Regions from separate parts of the Homo sapiens genome. Here region 1 is linked to region 2. Evidence: fine-mapped expression QTL. A gene starts in region 2. The other region holds a variant in brackets. All regions are shown on one strand. Distances are from middle to middle.

What was found. PIP is the estimated chance that this variant, and not a neighbour inherited with it, causes the effect.
Region 1: its variant is fine-mapped to the expression of SORBS2-AS1 in esophagus mucosa (GTEx, PIP 0.95).

The regions. Positions count from the first base shown.
Region 1 is chr4:185,817,915-185,820,827 of GRCh38, reverse strand. It overlaps a transcript of SORBS2 not described here. Among named protein-coding and RNA genes, the nearest start is that of SORBS2, 7.2 kb to the right of the region's middle. The variant A/C (reference allele first, on the strand shown) is at 1,379.
Region 2 is chr4:185,586,600-185,589,512 of GRCh38, reverse strand. SORBS2-AS1 (SORBS2 antisense RNA 1) reads right to left here and starts at 1,588. Exons shown (of 4, transcript NR_186082.1): 1 at 1,323-1,588; 2 at 284-359. It overlaps SORBS2 (sorbin and SH3 domain containing 2), which reads left to right. Exons shown (of 27, transcript NM_001395207.1): 27 at 1,825-2,913. The coding sequence ends at 1,886. RefSeq lists enhancers at 1,934-2,013, 1,292-2,491.

The DNA of each region.
Region 1 (2,913 bases), 230 kb before region 2:
AATGATCTCTGCCGTCCTGCAGTTTATAATCTCGCGGGACAGACAGAGATTAAGTAAATAAAAGCACAAGTAAATGTGCAGCGTGTGAAGTCCCGGGACTGCCAGGACTCTGCTACAGAACTCTTAAAGAACACGGTGCCTCTTTTCTTAAAGGGCCCTGTGTGTCGGCTGAGACGCTGTCTGCAAGGCCTCCGTAGGCCTTCCCCGCAGGCAAGGTGTCCGCGCACGCTGCTCCCTAGCCTCTGTCCCTGTCCCTCTGTGGTCTCAGCTCCCTACTCCTTCCCCAACTGCAGGACTTGGGCACACCATGCCCCTCCTCTGAAGGCCAGCCCTGCCCTGGCAGCCCCTTGGCATCTGGTCGATAAAGTCCCCACTAGATTCTATGAAAAGGTTAAATGAGGGAAAGAACTAGGGCTGCCGAGAGAATAGGAAACTGGTGCCAATTTAAATTAAAGGGGAGGGGAGGACATCAGCCGGGAAGGAAAGCAGGAGGCAGAAGCGAAAAGGCCTCCTGCTGGCTGTTCACACAGCGCCGCGCTGTCCAGGTGAGGTTGCAGGGAGCCTGCGATAAGTTCCCACTGATGACACTAGTGCCTGTTTCTCCTTTGCTGAAGCCCACGGCCCTCACCGTCTGGACCATTCTTTTGATGAACACATGCATTTGTGTTGCTTTTTGACGCTCTGGTCCACGTCCAGCTGATGTTTCCCACGGTATTGGAAGGTCCCGGAGGTCCGTGCCCACCCAGTGCCGCACCATAAATCAAAGATACAAAATTCAAGATAATACCTAATACCCTTTTATGCTAATTAATGGATTTAATTGCCACAACCGCCCTCAGAATTAGATAATATTATCATCCTTTCTTATGAGGAAACAGAAGCACAAAGAGGTTAGGCAATTTGCATATCACACAGCTAACAAATTGCAGAATATTTGAATCCACACCATTTATTTATTTGTTCCACAGTGAATGAACAAGTATACTTTGAGATATTGATATGAAACCAGTATAAGGAGAGATGGCAATGCTTTGAGTCTGTGCTGAGGAGTTAAGCACAGTGGCTGGATAGGCAAGGACACCCCCAGGCAGGAATGAAGGAAGGGTGCTTCCGCAACCCACCGAGTCAGCCTGGGTGATCCCTGCACTGACAGGTGACCAGCCAGGAATAAAGGCTCACTGACAATGTCCAGAAATGAGATAGTACTTTCTTTGTACCCAGGCTGACATGAGCTGGCAGAGGCAGCTTGTTGTCTATCCACTCCCTATTATCAATTTGTTTCTCAGTAGTAGAACACTGGTTTACCTGGGACCAAAAGGCGTCCGGCTGAAAAGACCACGTTTTTGAGACTTACTTATCACTCAGGATGCAATGAGAT[A/C]TCAGCAGAAGTGCTGGGTGGGAGGTGGGGAAAAGCTCCTTCAAAGAGGCCAACTCAAGCGGAAAATGTGCCCCTTGGCTCTCCCTCTCCTCTTCTTGCCTGGAACATGGACCTGATGGCTGGAGCACAAGTAGCCATTCTGGACCACGAGGATTCTTGAGGATAGAAACCAGTTTCAAAAGATGACAGAACAGAGGGTAGGAGCTAGAGTCCTAATAATCATGAGGCCAATTTTCTACTAGCCTAGAACTCCTTATTTCTCAATCCTTCAAGTGAGAGAAAAATATAGCTCTGTCTCTTGTAAGCCCTGTTATTTGAGCTTTCTCTCCTATGCAGCCAATCCTGATCCTGTGATAAGACTTTCTCATGTGTTACCAAAAATTGAAACACAACTTGAGTTTGCTTCCAATTGTTGGAAGCAAACCATGTCTTTAATGAAGGAAAGATATAGGAAAGAGTCCACATGCCAAGAGAATAATGGGTCCTTCAAGATGCAGGTCAGGTATCAGCTCTCAGATAAATTTTTTAAAATCTACCTTTATGCCTATAGGAAAGTTGGTTGTGGAATGATTTGTCATGCTACTTTAAACCTCACAAGGAATGTTTCTTTTCTTTTTTTTTTTTGAGACAGAGTCTCGCTCTGTCACCCAGGCTGGAGTGCAGTGGCACGATCTCGGCTCACTGCAACCTCCGCCTCCTGGGTTCATGCCATTCTCCTGCCTCAGCCTCCCAAGTAGCTGGGACTACAGGCGCCCACCACCAGGCCCAGCTAATTTTTTGTATTTTTAGTAGAGATAGGGTTTCACCGTGTTAGCCAGGATGGTCTCGATCTCCTGACCTCTCACAAGGAATGTTTCAAATAGTCTTCCTTTGATGCAGGAAATGTCCAGAAGAATGTTCTCAGTTCAAGGCAATGATCTGGCAATTAGGATGCCAGAGTCTGACTTTTAAAAATATAGGCTGCTGGGCACGGTGGCTCATGCCTGTAATCCCAGCACTTTGGGAGGGCAAGGCAGGTGGATCACAAGGTCAGGAGATGGAGACCATCCTGGCTAACATGGTGAAACTCCGTTTCTACTAAAAATACAAAAAATTAGCCTGGTGTGGTGGCGGACACCTGTAATCCCAGCTACTCGGGAGGCTGAGGCAGGAGAATCGCTTGAACCCAGGAGGCGGAGATTGCAGTGAGCCAAGATTGTGCCATTGCACTCCAGCCTGGACGACAGAGCGAGACTCCATCTCAAAAACAAACAAACAAACAAACACATAGGCACTGAATTCTGACCTGGGTAGGCTTAGTAAAATAATTACCATTCTGGGTTATAGCTCCCATCCAATATTCTGCAAGCACGCATAGTTTATTTTTCCTACCTGCACGTGCTGTCACTGTCAGGCCTTTAACTGAACATCTACTATTTCCAGTGCGGATTGGGGATTTTTATTTTTCAACAGTATTTTCCACTTGTTGTTGGACCGTTGGATCCTAAAACGTGTACCTGATTGTATTAATACATCACTTGGGCCCATCTTATTAT
Region 2 (2,913 bases):
TATAGTTTAGTATTCACTGCTTCAGCTATGTGTGATTTTCTGCGAGCTTTATTTCCAACTCAACTGAGAGAAGACAATTTCTTTAAATAGCAAAAACCAGGAAAGATTGAGATCTAAGAACAACAACAACAAATGGTCCCCAGAAGAGAAATATCAACGCTCTGTGCTGTGGAAAATGTTAGTTGTCCACAGTGAGAATCTAATTTCAGAGGGAGTGAGATTAAGTGAACAGCTCTCCCGTTTCCTAGGTCTGACGTAGATGCCCGAACATTCAGTGACTCACCTTAACTTTAGTTTGTGGTGGAAGCAGAGAGACGTTCCATTCTTCCCACTTAAAAGGCAACTTCATCTTTACCATCCTAAAAAAAAAGACGAGAGGTCTTCTGGGAAAACATTTGTAGACAAAAGTATTTTACACTGGGCCACAGAAAGAGGTGAAAAGGAAACACAGGCTGCAGGGCAGAGAATGGAAGAGAGGAAAGGTGAGAGGAGAGGAGGGCTCACTCTAGACATCCATCGGTGGCAAAATCATGAAAGAATTGAGGCCCTGGTGCGGCCACAAGCCTCTGATTTTATTTCCATTAAAAGAAGAAAAAAAGGCCGGGTGCGGTGGCTCATGCCTGTAATTCTAGCACTTTGGGAGGCCGAGGCGGGTGGATTACCTGAGGCCAGGAGTTCGAGGCCAGCCTGGTCAACATGGTGAAACCCCGTATCTACCAAAAGTACAATAATCAGCTGGGCTTGGTGGCAGGTGCCTGTAATCCCAGCCACTCAGGAGGCTAAGGCAGGAGAATTGCTTGAACCCAAGAGGCAGAGGTTGCAGTGAGCCGAGATCATGCCACTGCACTCCAGCCTGGGCGACAAGAGCGAAACTCCATCTCAAAAACAAGGAGGAGGAGGAGGAGGGAGGAGGAGGAGGGAGGAGAAACGTAAAATGGCTTGCCTAGCCAAGGAAAAAGAAAAACAGCCATCAAACCAAGGCAGTAAGTGCCAGGATATAGGAGACAGATGAAGCTTGAGAGACCCTTATCCGGTCCATCTGCGCTGCCTAAAGAAGAATTTAGCAATTTAGTGCACCAACTTTTACAAGAAGTGTCCAAGGAATTACATTATTTGAAACCAGAGGCGAACATAATTATGATAGCCATTTGTGCGTGTGGTTAAACACACACCATGTTAAAAATCATGCCACTGATAGAACTCCCACACACAAATAGTGCTTAATCCTTTTTTTCATTAATGATTTGTAAATTGTTGAAAAATTGTATACTCGATGAAGGACTCTGGCAGTGCTGTTTTTAAATAAATGATGTGGCACTGACCATGATCTTCTGTAAGATGATAAAACTGTTGGAACAGCGACAGCCTGCCACAGATGATGTCTTCATGTCGCACCTGTGTTGCGCGGGTTGCTGGTCCCTGAGAAGCTTTGCTCTTAGGATTTTCCACTCACCCTGTCACCTGTCAGCCTCGCCTTGATCCCTCACCCCCGACTCTGGTGTGGCAGCCTCAGTGACTGAGCTCCTCCGCCCCCCTCCTCAGCAGGGCTGACTTTCCCTTTAGCTTGGGAGGCTCAGCATTTCTGTTTAGCCTGCCGCGATGGCAGCGCAGCATTTATGCCGGAGGGGCAGTGAGAGCGTCAGGCAACCAGCTAACACTGCTTATTTTGTCTGCCTATGGGCTTCATGTGAGTTGCCTGCCTTCTTTTCCAAACCCCTCGGGGCTTGCTGTCTTCCGAGGCCTTGTAAATGGGAAGTATTCAAGCCCATGTGTATGAACTGATATCGTTGTCACCCCCCTTTCATGACTCGCTTCTATTTTCAGGGACCTCAAGAAGAACCAAATTCTTTGGTACTTTCCCCGGAAACTACGTCAAGAGGCTGTGAATTGCGCTCCCTCCTTCTGTAGAGGCCGCCTGCCAGCCATGCACCTGCGTCAACGCGCCTGAAACACCCCGCGGGCCTCCCGTTGTCATGCCTTACGGTTTCCAATGCGCCGTCACCATCTCCACCTGCCACCAAACCACCAGCAGAGTAGCCGCCGCTGCTGTGAGCCTGGGGACGACATGGCAGGCTGGTCCCCCTCCGTGAAAGTGTGGATTCCTACTTCCTGCTCTAAGCTTTGACACGTCAAAATGTGGGATCAGAAAGAAAAAAATCATGATATTTAAAAATGGTCAAATATTTGAGGCAAAAAAAAAAAAAAAAAGTGTCTCCAGGAGGCTGTCCAGCCTCGTGGCTCCATTTCAACATCTCCCCCCAGGCGATGTTCTCCCCCAAGACGACCAGAAAATTGTTTATTGGGGAATGCTGTGGTTTGCATTTTCATATTCTTCGCTTGGCAGTGTGTATTCTTTTCACAAGTTTGCCTAGTGTCTTGGTTTACACAATATGACAACTGTAACTGTACTTTAGCTATTGTTTGCCTGCACATACATGTTGTAATATGCACAGTGATTACAACCTTTAAAGCAAGAGGAGGCGAGTTAATTTGGATGAGTGTGATTTTGCTGATTGAATGTGAGTTTTCAAATAGGAGTCTTTTTCTGCAATTTGTTTGCATTTTTTAGAAGTGCAAACAGTAAGTAAATAAAAGCCTTCGGTAATAATCATGACAATACAAGAGGCTGAGCTAGGCTACAGGGGAAAACTATTGTGTTGTAAAGTTGCATCGCTATTTTATATTAAAATGTAATGATCAGCATCATGAACAATGAGCTCTTAGTGTTTTATTTATCTGAAAAAATGTAAGTAAAAGCAGTGTTAGTGAGAGGTGCAAAGAATTATTCTAACAGACACCTGAAAGTATCTGTAAGCAATACTAGTAGGTAAGATTTCACTGTGTGTACACATACACATTTGAGATTGTATGAGAACATATAATCCATATGATATGTTGTACATTTTATGGAAA